Homo sapiens: one gene and its partners. The protein of the gene in region 3 purifies or fractionates together with the protein of the main gene of each other region. This does not show direct contact. Each region holds a gene or a part of one and is shown on either strand. Other genes may lie near its edges.

The links. Proteins that work in one complex are often made in the same cells at the same time.
Region 1: the proteins of ZNF2 (region 3) and PRDM15 purify together in Homo sapiens (affinity purification with mass spectrometry; 2 studies listed by BioGRID and IntAct, with this or other methods). This does not show direct contact.
Region 2: the proteins of ZNF2 (region 3) and ZNF800 purify together in Homo sapiens (affinity purification with mass spectrometry; 2 studies listed by BioGRID and IntAct, with this or other methods). This does not show direct contact.
Region 4: the proteins of ZNF2 (region 3) and ZC3HAV1 purify together in Homo sapiens (affinity purification with mass spectrometry; 2 studies listed by BioGRID and IntAct, with this or other methods). This does not show direct contact.

The regions. Positions count from the first base shown.
Region 1 is NC_000021.9:41,802,845-41,806,344, forward strand, and holds part of PRDM15 (PR domain zinc finger protein 15), read right to left. Parts: intron 1,771-3,500; coding exon 1,690-1,770; intron 78-1,689; coding exon 1-77. UniProt on the Homo sapiens protein: Sequence-specific DNA-binding transcriptional regulator. Plays a role as a molecular node in a transcriptional network regulating embryonic development and cell fate decision.
Region 2 is NC_000007.14:127,379,209-127,382,708, reverse strand, and holds part of ZNF800 (zinc finger protein 800), read left to right. Parts: intron 1-3,500. UniProt on the Homo sapiens protein: May be involved in transcriptional regulation.
Region 3 is NC_000002.12:95,172,309-95,175,808, forward strand, and holds part of ZNF2 (zinc finger protein 2), read left to right. Parts: intron 1-3,500. UniProt on the Homo sapiens protein: May be involved in transcriptional regulation.
Region 4 is NC_000007.14:139,082,221-139,085,720, forward strand, and holds part of ZC3HAV1 (zinc finger CCCH-type antiviral protein 1), read right to left. Parts: intron 1,813-3,500; coding exon 1,560-1,812; intron 1-1,559.

The DNA.
Region 1 (3,500 bases), on a different chromosome or scaffold from region 3:
TTTCTCTTGTGACTTCGCTTGGCAGCTTTCCCGTGCTTCCCTTCGGCCAAATCCTCCTGCTCCAGAGTCAGCTCAGGCTGCAGAAAAATCGGTTTCAGCCGAGAACCAGGTTAGTCGGTCACGTCAGGCAGCGGCCAGGGCAGCCCCAGCACTGCCCTGGACACACTCTCCAATCAGTGGGGACGCTTGTGGGCCACCGAGCTGCCACAAGAAACAGTGACCACAGCTGGGTCTTGTATTTCTAAGGATCGGGGCAAGTTCCTTTAGTTGCAGATTTAAAAAAAAAATACATGCAAGTCATATTTTTAAAAGTTGTATTTTATGCTAAAATGTAAACACTTCTTAGAAACTTAACGTTTTAAGCCACTGGGTATTTCCAAAGGGAAATGTTTCTGCCCGGGTGAGCTGCTAGAGCAAGGCTGAAAATGCTTTCAAATCAGGGCTCTCTCTTCCCCAGGGCTGAGACGAATCCACCATAAAAAACAATTTTGAATTAAAACAGATTTGACCACAAAACCTGCAGGGACAGGGAACGAGGGCCCAGCTGCAGTGGTGAGCCCAGTGGGCCCCTCCCCGCACGATTCCCTGCAAGTGTCCAGGACACTGCTGGGCTGTGACCACATCCTCTGAACCGGGCCGGCTCACCAGGCTCGCTCAGGCTCACAGAGGCCGCGGGGCAGTGGTGGCCGGTGAGTGGTCACCTGCCACTCCTCTTGGGCTTCCTGTGCCATTCCACACAACCTGATCCTAACCCAGTGGCAGACAGACCCAGCGTGGGCCTACACCGCTGTCATGGTGGGACGACCCGTCCCCCCCATGCCTGTGACTTGCCAAGGGTAGAAATGGCCTGTGGGTTCTGGGGCTGGGGCTGGAGCCGCCGTACGTCACTCAGCCGGACCCAGTGCCCTTCATGAAGACTGCACTCTAAAGCGCTGTTTCAGAACGAGAGGCATACATGTGATCTTAGACCACTGAGAGCATGGCACGTTCTCTTTGAAATAAAAAAAAATTTTGCTAACTGAAAGTTTAGTATTAACTAAAAATTTCTTTAAAAACTAAGTTCATCTAATTGGTATGTTTAAACTTATTTTGCTTAGAACATTTTAATGATTGTTCTGATTTTTTTTTTTTTTTTTTTCAGACACAGTCTCGCTCTGTTGCCTGGGCTGGAGCGCAGTGGCACAATCTCGGCTCATTGCAACCTCCGCCCCTGGGTTCAAGCAATTCTCCTGCCTCAGCCTCCTGAGTAGCTGGGATTACAGGCGTGCACTACCACATTTGGCTAATTTTTGTACTTTTAGTAGAGACAGGGTTTTGCCACGTTGGCCAGGCTGGTCTTGAACTCCTGACCTCAAGTGATCTGCCCGCCTTGGCCTCCCAAATTGCTGGGATTACAGGCGTGAGCCACCGCGCCCAGCCAATTGTTCTAATTTCTATTTTTTTCTGGAAAACATCTGTTTTCCAAAGTGAGATACACCAGTATTCAACAAACTGAGGTCACAGAAACTACAGAAACGAGGAGATGATCTAAGAGGTTCTGAGGGGAAGAGAAGCCAAGAAAACAGGGTAACCTGGCCACAGGCTTGCCCAGAGCTGCTCCCTCCCGGCCTGTCCAAGCCCCTCTGGTCCCTTCTGCAGGTGTCCACTTACCCCAAAGTTTCTGAGCCCCTGGGGCCCCATGCTGCTCACCTGGACGATGCCAATGGAGGAGGCGTCGATGGTGGTGGTCTCCGGGAGGTGGTCCAGGTCATCGATCCTCACCGCGAGCACCTATGAGGAGCACAGGGCATGAGCTGGGGGTCAGGGTGCTGCTGATGCAGGTGGGAACCCAGAAGCCACACACGCCTTGGGACCACCTCCACCACTCCTGCCCTTCCCTCCCAGGCATCCCCCGCACTTCCCAGTCTCCTCTGTTCAGCTCTGACTTTGAAACTCTGTGTCCAGAAGCCCAGGGCTTATCCTCACCCCTTATTTCATGCTCCCACAATGGTCTTGCCCCTGTATCATCTCACGTCCACTCCCCCAGTGGGGAGACTATGTCCTCCCTTTTTGGCCCCCCACCAAAGGGGTGAGGTTTCAGTGGCGCTTCTGTTATTTCCAAGGGAGACCACAGCAAGGTAAAGATACAGTAGAGTAAACTTGTTCTATGAGCAATCACCAAAAATGAGACATTTGTGCCTTACACATCGTACTTTTCAGTTGAATCCATACACAAGTGCTTTCATTTGTTGGTTTTGTGATGAAGTGACGCCCTGCCCCTACCTTCCCTCCAATGGCCCCACTGAACGGGGTCCTCAGCACGCCCCATGTGTCCACAGGGGCCCTCCCACCAGCTCAGTGCGTCCTGCCCAAAAGTGAGTGACCTTCACCGCCCACACCCTGCTTACAGCAGTTGCGTTTGTTCCTGTGATGACCTAATTAGATCATAAGAAAGACAACGGACAACGAGTACAGAGACAGCCGAACGTGATAAAGGGGAGGGGCTGCAAAACAAAATTAGCAAGAGTCTGCCTGTAAGGGTGCTTCACCCAAACAGCTTTGCAAACATCTTTAAATTTCTGATCAACTAAAGGAAGTTAAAATGAAAAAGCAGACTATGCTTTGTGGATGTAACTCATTTAAAAAAGGAGAGAAGTGCATCATTAAATTTACATTCCATGACTAGGTCTGGGCCCCTTCCTGGAAAAGATGGCAAACAAAGGCTGGTCTGTAAGTGTTTTAAGTTAACATAAATCCTGCAATGGCTTTGAAGACTCCAGTGTAACTCTCATTGACACTGAGCACAGATCTATACTGTGACACTCGCAAAGGACCCTGAGCAAAAGCAACCAGACTGCTGTGGACGCACTCTCTACCGTCACCACCATCACCACCATAAGCACCACCACCACCATCATCATTACCACCTCTATCATCAGTATCATCACCATCAACACCAACACCACCACCACCAACACAACCACCTCCATCACCATTACCAACACCATCACCACCAACACAACCACCTCCATCACCATTAACAACACCATCACCACCCCCTCCATCACTATCATTACCCTCATCACCACCAACACTGTCACCACCATCATCAGTACCACTACCACCACGTGGCATCACCACCACTGCCATTCCTATCACCACTATCACCACCACCACCACCATCACCACCACCATCACCACCACCACCATCACCACCACCATCACCACCACCACCATCACCATCACCACCACCATCACCACCACCACCATCACCACCACCATCACCACCACCACCACCACCATCACCACCACCATCACCACCACCACCACCATCACCATCACCACCACCATCACCACCACCACCATCACCACCACCACCATCACCATCACCATCACCATCACCACCATCACTACCACCATCACCACCACCACCATCACCACCACCCATCACCACCACCACCATCACCATCACCACCACCATCACCACCACCACCATCACCACCACCACCATCACCATCACC
Region 2 (3,500 bases), on a different chromosome or scaffold from region 3:
GTTGACATCAGTCCATAGATAGATGCCTCATTTTTTAAGAAGCCTGCAGGTTTTGCAGCTGCAGGTTTTCCACTTGGAAATTCCTGATGATTGGCTGACTTGAGACCTGCTGTTTGCTCTGAACCCCTGGTTTCTTCTACTACCTTGACTGTGCCTTACCCTTTGTGTAGTTTGGCTTTGGCTGTGTCATTCTGATAGGATCATGTTTCTAATATGGTGTCTTCAAATTTCCCTCCTCTCTATAACACTTTCAGTTTATCTTCCTTCCTCTTTGACCTCTCTCCCCAAACCAAAACAAAATTTTAAATAGCAGATAAAAAGTGTACTACCTTTACATATTTATTAAATATCTTTTATGTGTTTATTAAATTGGTTTAGTTGAGTTCAATATTCTTTCAGAATTTCTTAGTTGTGTGCTAGAGGCAAAGGAACTATGGAATGCCCCTATGGTTAGAAAGAGAAAAATGAGGGGAAAAGAGAAGGATAATTTTGTCTGGTATTCAAGACTGGTCTTTAATATGAAGCTGACATCTTCTTTTTAAGTTCTTGAAATATATAATATTGTAAGAAGAGAAATATATAATTTGTAGAAAAAAGATTCTACATGTAGAATATGCTAGAGCAGTACATGCAGGGAACTCTTTTTTTGACTCTTAGGGAGGAATAAATTGTAACTTTAATTGTATGGTAATGAAAAATGAGAATTAGCTTCATGTGATGTTTGCTGTCATTATCTTTCTAAATTTGGGTTTGGTCATTTAACTTAGGCTTTTTTTTTTCTCCTTAAAACAACTTTAATTGCAATTAGTTTAAGCTCTGACTGAATGGTGATGCTTCAGTCCTGATTCTGAAGGCAAAGCGTAGGGTGGACGTGATTTTTCTGAGGTACATAGGAGAGTGCCATACCTATGATGGCTTTTTCTTTTTTTGTTGTTATATAGCAGTTATAGGAAATTTAAAATGGGACTTTTTTTTATAAGAAAAAAGTAGATTTGTTTTCCTTACATTCATATTCAAAGCATGTCATCTGGTGTTACGTTCCCAAGACAACAGCCATTTATATTGGTCTGAGTTTCTCAGTGGGGGAAAGACCGTATCTTTCATATTTCCAATGAGTAACAGTGTACCTGGTATTTAATGTGTGCTCAATAAGTGTTTGTTAGATTAAACTAAAAGATTCCCCAAGTAGGCACTGTCCTAAGATAATTGTATTCTACTTAAGTTTATTGTGGTATGTGGCAGTGCTCTATAATTAACATATATATATATTTAACCAGCCCTTACAGGTGATAGTTTTAGGATAGAACTTTCAATTTCTTAAGTTTTCTTTGTATCTTTGAATCCTTACGTTAAGGATGATCAGTAAGAAATTTCCTTCAGGAGTTGTGATGAGGAACGTACATTTATTTACTTGCAGTGTTTTGATGATATTGTAGTTAAGTGGTCATCCTAAAGAAGATTGAGTTTATATTTGAGCCAATAGTAAGCAAGCAGTATACCATTTAAGAAGCATTCTTGTCATCACTTAAAATGGGCATTGACCAAAATGTCAGTGCATTAAGTAAGAAAATGAAACCTTGTCTTTGTCTAGCATAGAAGAGTTAGAATTAATATTGTCATATTGTAATGTGACTGCCATCCAACCTAATGTAAAATTGAATACTGATTCCTTTTGAAAAAATATTTTAAACATTTTCACCAGTACATGCAATGCACTTGCCATTAAAGAATAACACAAGATAAACCCTTGATGAAGTTTAAGTAATTTTTATTGAGCACCTATTAGGGGTGAAAATCTGGAATATACAGTCATTAATCTTTAGCTATCAAAAGCCTTTCCTTTGGAGGGCTGGATGTTTGAAAGGTACTGATCTATGTAAGCAGTAAGTGGTGATTTCTAAGATAATTTAAAACCCTAAGGCAAGAAAGAGAGCAATATAGGAAAAGAAGAAGGAAGTCAGCATGGCTCTCTGTTTCTCAGCATCAAGAGCTGTGGAGGAACTTTATGTTGCTGTCTGGATGACCATGTCTGTTGTCTCAGGTGACAGGAAGTTTTAGCTATTGACAGAGGCACTTAGAGTTGGCTGTGTCCAATTGTAAGTGAGCAGAGCAATCAGAAAATGGTAGCTGACTTTGAAGAAAGCCATTCTGTCTCCATGGGAAAAAATAAAAAAATCTTAAGTGGTGTCTGAAACTAAGGGAAAAACTTTTATTATCTCTGTTTGTGGACTGAGACACACCTTATTTTTCTCATTTGTTAACTATGTAAGTGGAATTAAAAAAGTTTTAAAGTCTCATTTTTGACTCCTCAGTTAACTTCACATAGATTTAAAAAATCTAATTTTTAGAGAAGGTTTTTTTAATACATAGAGCTCTGTAGTATTTCATTTAGCAAATATCAGTCATGCATTATCCTGAGAGCTGGGGTAGCGGTGAGCATCAAGAATATCTTCTCTGTTCTAATCTTCCAGTTTAATGGCGATATGGAAAAGAAATTAATTACAAAACAGTGGATAAGCTAGTATAGATATCTAGGGTGCTATGAGAGTGTAGGTGAAGGATTTTTAACAAACAACAACAAAAAACAAGAGGTTGATTATTGAAGGCTTCTTGGAGGAAGTGACATCTATACTGGGATCTGAAGGATTATTAGAAGTGAGTCAGATCAGGAAAGTGGGAGAATGTTATAGTCAGAGAGGAAAAAACATAGGTGAAGGCCTGAAAAGTGAGGGAAAGAATACATTTGGTGTATCTGTGGACCTGAAAGAAATCTGGACTGCTTGGATCAACGATACACACACTTGCGCTCTCTCTCCCTCTCTCTCTCTCTCTCTCTCTGTGTGTGTGTGGGGGGGGTGGGGGGGTGGGGGGGTGGCAAGGGTAAGGGGAAGCATTTGTGATTGATAATTAAGATTGATTAGTTAAGGTTAGAGGCAAATACTTTTTTTTGGATGTTTATTGAGAATAAATATGCAGTCCCTACTGAATATAACTTAACTGTATAATTAGGACTAATTAAGAAATTGATAGTGTCTTTATTTTTCTGTGATTGAGAAGCTGGTAGGCAAAGTGATGTGTCTGATTTAGGGATGCAGTCTTATATTTTACACTTGACTATTTTTTATGTATAACCTCATGTTTACAGACTGATTATTTTATGCTTTAAATCTGCAGCCATGTACATGTATCCTATTTAAATCTTAAGTTGAATTCTTAAGTTAAACCGAGTTCACATTATTTTGGTGTTCCTCTTCAATCTTTTTTGACTATCCTTAAAGGCAGAATTGAATCTGTATTATGGGTCTAGCAGGTTTTGTAGTTTAGAATCAGTGTGCAAAAGTTTCCTGTTTTCTTCCCACTGCTACTATGCTCACCTACATTTCCTGAGAAATATATATAGGTCAATTAGGCTTAGCCAAAGCATTTTTTAAAATCAGTCTACCTCTCATAGTTTGTCACTCACTTATGAAGTTAACTGTGAACTAAATATATTAGCAGTC
Region 3 (3,500 bases):
CCTCTCAAAATCGAAGTTTCCAGCTGCCAGCGAAGGGCCAGCATGCAAGCAGAACTTTCTAGGAATAGCAGTCTCAGGTCTGCTGTGACTTTTCTGCACACCACCCTTCTTTCCTTCCTGTTATTTTTTTCTGTACACCAAAATAAGGACTTACTCTTGTTGAAAAAAATATATGAAGAATGGTAAGAAAATAAAAATAACTTATAACTCACCACTCAAATTTCATTTACATTTTATTATGTGTTTTTCCTTTTTCTATACATAATGTGCATGTACAAATATGTAATTTTAAAAGTGTGCATTCTTCAAGTGTTTTGAATTTCTTTGTGGTTTTTTTTTTTTTTTTTAGATGGAGTCTCACTCTGTCACCCAGGCTGGAGTGCAGTGGCGTGAGCTCAGCTCACTGCAACCTCTGCCTTCTGGGTTCAAGCAATTCTCCTGCCTCAGCCTCCAGGGTAGCTGGCACTACAGCCACGTGCCATCATGCCTGGCTAATTTTTGTATTTTTAGTAGAGACGGGATTTCACCATGTTGGCCAAGCTGGTCTTGAACTCCTAACCTCAAGTGATCCACACGCCTCGGTCTCCCAAAGTGCTGGGATTACAGGTGTGAGCCACTGCACCTGGCCGTTCTTTGTGGTTTTTTTTCAGTTGTTGATTTTTTTTTTTTTTGTAAGAAACAAAGCATTACAGATAAAGCTGAAGTATCCTGGGTATCCTTCCCCAGTCTTATTTCCCTTTCTTCTCAGATATGTACACATTTGCTGCTTATTGTCCCATGTGTTAATAGATTTTTGTAGGTATTATTTACCTGTTTTTAAATTTTATGTAAATATTATACAGTAAGTCATTCTATAACTTATTTTTTGCCCAGTAATTATGTTTTTGTAATTTATCTCTGTTAACATGAGATAATGTATAATATTCATATATAATGTATAATACACATATTCATATATAATATTCATATATGAGATAATGTATATATATTCACAAATCCTTTATCTGATTAATGGACATTGAAGTTGTTTGCAGTTTATCACTAGTGATCTTCTCCCCAGTGACTTGTAATGCCACCTCAGTCATACATCAGGCTTCCCTAATGTTTGGATATGTTTTGGGATTTTCTGTTCTAGTCTATTGGTCTGTAATTGATGTGGCTATCTTTTCATGAAAATAAATCATGGTAGCATGAAAGTTAAAACCTCCCAGGCAGACATGGTTTCAAGTTCTACCTCAGATTCTTACAAAGCCTTAATTTCCTAATCTGTAAAATAGTGCCTACCTTATTGATTTATGAGGATGGAGTTAAATTAGCCTTATAAAAAGCACTTAGCACAGTACCTGGCAAATAGAAAATACTCAATAATGCTAGTTGTTATTAAGATGATGGGTTTTTTTGTTTTGGTTTGGTTTGTTTGAGATGGAGTCTTGCTCTGTCGCCAGGCTGGAGTGCAGTGGCACGATCTTGGCTCACTGCAACCTCCGCCTCCCAGGGTCAACCAATTCTCCTGCCTCAGCCTCCCAAGTAGCTGGGACTAAAGGCACACGCCACCACGCCCAGCTAATTTTTTTGTATTGTTAGTAGAGACTGGGTTTCACCATTTTGGCCAGGATGGTCTCCATCTCTTGACCTCATGATCCGCATGTCTTGGCCTCCCAAAGTGCTGGGATTACAGGCGTGAGCCACCGTGCCAGGCCAAGATGATGTTTAATAGTGTTCCATTATATGTATGGACTGGGCCATAAATTATTTAACCAAGTCTCCAGATGTTTAAGGTATTTCAAATTTTTGCTGCCTTATTGAAAAGATTAAATGAGATAATACATATAAAGTGCTTAGGAAGTGCCCTGGAACATAGCTGTCAATAAGGGTTAGTGTTAATGATGAGTCATAAAAAGCTGTGTATATATCATATATCATTACTTATTTCCTAGTATAAATTCCTAGGAGAGAATTGCTGGGTCAAACAGTATGTTTCAAGGCCCTTGCTATAAGTCACAGTGATTTTTTAAAGCACGGATGTGATGACATGTCCACACCCAAATCCTTCAGTAATCTCCATGCCTGTGGAGAAAGGGCCATGCAAAGCTCTCCTCGATGAAACTGGCCTCTGCCTACCTCTTTTCCCTCATCTTCCCCACAGCACTGCTCACAGCCTAGACTTCTACCATTCTAAGCTAATTTTTGTTGTTAATCCTTTCCATGTAAAGACCTGCCTCCTTCTTTTTGAAAAACTTGAGGTTTTTTTCTCAAGATTTAGAATGTTCTAGCTCCTCCCACAAATGAAAACTTAGCTTAGATCCCACTCCTGTCAAGAAAGCTGCAGAGTTCCTCCTTCCATCCCTCCCTGCTGGGTTAGGTGAGCCTCTGAGGTGCTCTCATGGATTGCTGTGCATATCGCTTTGCTGCTCTTAATGCATCCTGGAGTGAAATATTATCTCATTTACTTGTTTGTTCTCTGTGCTAAGCTATAGCTTCTGGAGGACAAAGACAGTGTCTGACAGTTTTTCTGTGCTTGATGTAAGTAGTTGGTGCTGAATAAATGCTGGTTGAATAGAAGGATGAATGAATGAGTCACAAGAAGCAGTGACCATATCCCCTTGACTGTTGGAGAATGGTCAGTGCACCGCAAATATGCCTTTTCCTCCTCCTCACCAGGACCACACCATCTCCCAGCCACCATAAATCCCAGAAATGTGGGATTTAATGCTCTTGTTTTATTTTTATATTTTTTTATTTTTATAGAGACAGAGGTCTTGCTATGTTGCCCAGGCTGGTCTTGAGAACTCCTGGCCTCAAGTGATCCTTCCACCTCGGCTTCCCAAAGTGCTGGGATTACAGACATGTGCCACCGTGCCTGGTCTGTTGTTTTAATTAGACTCTTGATTGTGAAAAACTGAGACTTAGCTAATCCCAGTAAAGGGAATTAGTGATAAGATCTTGCACAGAGCCCAAGAGAGTTAGAGTATTATGGCAATCTATGAATAAATAAGGATGGTTTGCATGGAAATTGGAGCCCATGGGTGGTGCTAGGCGAGGTGAGGGCTTCCCCAGGAATTCTTAGGTCTTTGCGTCAGTGTTTCACCGCTGATGGGACTGCGCTGGGCTTCCCCCTGCCTGCCTCTGGTCCCGTGGTCTATTATGACCTTTTCTCTACCTTGTACCTCCCATGTGCCCATGGGTTCTGCTGCTGGTAACTTTGGTTCCCCGATCCTTGTGGCTGCTTCAGGACGTCCTTTCATGATATCCTTTCAGCTCGTCACCCACTTGTCCTGACATTTCTTAGTTCACATTCCCAAGGAAGGATGTCATCTTTTCAAGCCAGATCACATCTCAATCTACTAGTCATGTGTGCATTACCCACCTGTGGCCTAATCAGTGTGGCTCCGGGAATAAGACACAGGGTCACATGGTACAAAACCTGGCTGCCCAAGGGATGCTCCTTTAGCAAGGGCTATGAGTGGGGTATTTTTCCTTTGAAGAGACTGGATTGTCTT
Region 4 (3,500 bases), on a different chromosome or scaffold from region 3:
GTCGCACCACTGAACTCCAGCCTGGGTGACAGAGTGAGACTCTGTCTCAAAACAGGAAAGAAAAAAAAAAGTAATAGCACTTCATACTCCTTAGGATGGCTATTATTAAAAAAAAAAATCAGAAAACACAAAATGATAGAGGATGTGAGAAATTTGAACCCATGTGCACTGCTGGCAGAAATGAAAAATGGCACAGCTGCTACAAAAAATGGTATGATCGTTCCTCCAAAAATTAAACATAGAATTACCATATGATCCAGCAATTCTACTTCTGATTATATACCCCCGAGGAACTGAAAACAGGGTCTCAAAGTGGTATCTGTACACCATGTTTACAGCAGCATTATTCACAATAGCCAAACTGGAAATGGCCCAAATATCCATCGACAGATGAATGGATAAAAAATTTATAATTATATACATACAATGAAATATTCATTCTGACATATGCTATAACATGGATGAACCCTGAGGACATCATGCTAAGTGAAATAAGCCAGTCAGAAAAGGATAAATATTGTACGATTCCACTTATATGAAGTACCTAGGGTTGTCAAATTCATACAAACAGAAAGCAGAATGTTAGTTGCCAGGGGCTGGGGAAAGAAGGGAATGGGAGTTATTGTGGCTTTTTTTAGAAATTTTAAAATATTGGTTTTTTTTTAAAGAAATGGCACTGAGGACCATAAATTAAATTATACATAGTTTTGCATCAATAATAAATTTTCTGTATTAATTGTCTTGTGATTATGTAAGAGAATGGCCTTGTTCTGAGGAGATACATGCTGATATATTCAGGTGTGAAATGTCATGATATTTACATATATCAAATGCTTTAAACACCAAAATGTTCTACGTGTGTGTGAGTAGCTGCATGTATACATAGAGAGAAAGAAAGTGCTAAAGCAATTGGGACAAAATGTTAACAGCTGATAAATCTAAACAATTTTATGTTTGTTTCTTTTCCTTAAAAAAAAGCTTTGTTAATTAGTTTTTAGAAAAATGATATACACTTTTTTAAACCTGGGGGGGGGGGCAATAGTGCTAAGCATAAAAATTGAATTGCAAACACTGCATGTATACTACCATTATAATTATGTAAAAATGGTGTATACATATGCATGAAGTTTGGAAGGGAAAATGAAGAGTTTTACACGGCAAGGTAGAGTGATTATGGCAGTTTTTCTTTCCTTGTGATTTCTGCTGATTTGAAAGTTCACACAATTGGCCGGGTGCAGTGGCTCATGCTTGTAATCCCAGCACTTTGAAAGGCTGAGGCAGGGAGATTACCTTAGGTAAGGAGTTCAAGGCCAGCCTGGCCAACATGGCGAAACCCCGTCTCTAATTTATACAAAAATTAGCTGGGTGTGGTGGTGCACACCTGTAATCCCAGCTACTCGGGAGGCTGAGGCAGGAGAATCACTTGAACCTGGGAGGCAGAGGTTGCAGTGAGCTGAGATCACGCCACTGTACTCCAGCTTGGGTGACAGAGAGAGACTCTGTCTCAAAAAAAAAAAAAAAAAAAGAGTTCACACAATTGAAAAAGAAAAGGCCTTTACCTCTGGGCCCTGGGGGATTCTTCTGCATGTGCTTGCTGTTGCAGATGTCCTGGATGTTCTGGACCACGTCGGGGTTCAGCCCGTGCTCCCTCATGATGGCCAGCACCTTTCTGTCCATCAGGTTATGGGACCGGAGGCAGTTGGGAAAACGACAGTTCCCTCGGGTGAAGTGGTCACAGATGTGGAGTCTTGAACACGGTGGCTGCTGGTTACAAATCTGCTGCCGACCCTCTCCCTTATAACTTTTGCATATCTACAGAAGGGAGAAACAACAGCCAGAGTCAAAACACCTTCTTGTATTTGCCAAACATTCATTAAGGCAAGCTCACGTGTGCAAAAATCTCTGAAGCAAGCAGAGATATACCAAAGGGGGAAAAATACATGCATATTCTGCAGTCTTTGATGAGTCACATTCAGTTGGTGATTTACTTGGGGCAGAAGAGGTCCACAGACTAACCAAAAGATACTGATCAATTTGATAACCCTTGGAAGAATCAATGTAAGCTGGTTAGCTACAAACAGGACCCAAAGTGAGCCCTATATCATGAAGGAACCCAGCACAGGAAGGCTCATCTTTGGTTATCAACTCACTTTGCAATGAAAAGGACATGTGGGTCTTACCTGCAACTGTTTGGAAATCCAAAATTTAGACTCTGCTAGGCAGAATGACATTTCTCAAAAGATTGCCTAAAGAAGATAAGTTTTGTATTTCCATCTAAATAGATACATGTACGTGACTAGCTCTGAAGAGATGTAGTCCCTACTGGAAAGAGGGCAGAGAAAATACTGCAGCTGAGGCCACGCCATATGATACAGAACTGGAGGATGCTGGTTTTAAAATCTGAGGCCCTGGAAGCAGCTGTGTGACCTCAAGGGATCCCTTACCTACTCTTAGCCTCCGTTTCCTTTGCTGTAACAGGAGGAAAAGATTTGTTCTGTCTACAAAAACCAAGTTGTTAAGCAGACTAAATAGCAAAATTTGTAAATGCGTTATGCAAAATATAAAGTGTGATGCACGTGTTTGAACCATGAAATGAGGAAACCAATATAATTAGTAAGAAACCTGAATTTCAGACATTTTAATGAGTCACTTCGATAGACTCTGAGCAAACCAGATCAGTATGGTTCACTGTGATCTGTCTAGATGGCAAGCCATGATTCAAACCCCACTAGCAATGATTTTGCCACATGGATAATCGCTAAAACCTGATTCAAATAGATATATGTAACTGCTATCAAGTCTATGATCCAGATTCTAGACTCTAGACCAGCAATTCTCAAAGTGTGGTCCCCGGACCAGCACCATCAGCACTACCTGTAAATTTGTTAGAAATGCAAATCTTCAGGCACTTGCCCATATCTATAGAGTCTGAACCATCAGAGGTGGGGCCCAACAGTCTGTGTTTTAACAAACCTTCTGGATGATTCTGATGTCCGCTAAAGTTTGAGCTGTAGCAAAAAAGCACCATTAGCAACTTCACAAATGATGTTTTGGTAACATTCCTATTCCCACGCCGATATTAAGCAAGAATGCTCCTGCCTTCATTAGACCAGAACAAATGAAAGCATTTCTTCCTTTAAGAAGCACATTTCAATTGTACAAGTTTATATATCAGGCAGTCAGGTTTGCCTGATCTTTTTATGTTCTCACAAGTCAAAGCAAAATGAAAAAGTGTGAATACGTAGTTTTTTAGGGCTGAGTGTGTGGCTTCCCACTGGTTACCTCCAGTATTTTAACATTGTGACTAACACTTGCAGGTGCTTTTAAATGTTAGTTGAATGAATGCAAAGCAATCAATGAAGTGACTGGAAACATTTCACTGTGGTCCCCATCTCACACCCCCTAAACCACAAAGCTGTTTCTCTGCACTGCCTCTTACACTTAACTTCGCCCCTCTCTTCCTCCTCTTTCCTTCTGATAAAATCCAAATCAGCCAGGCA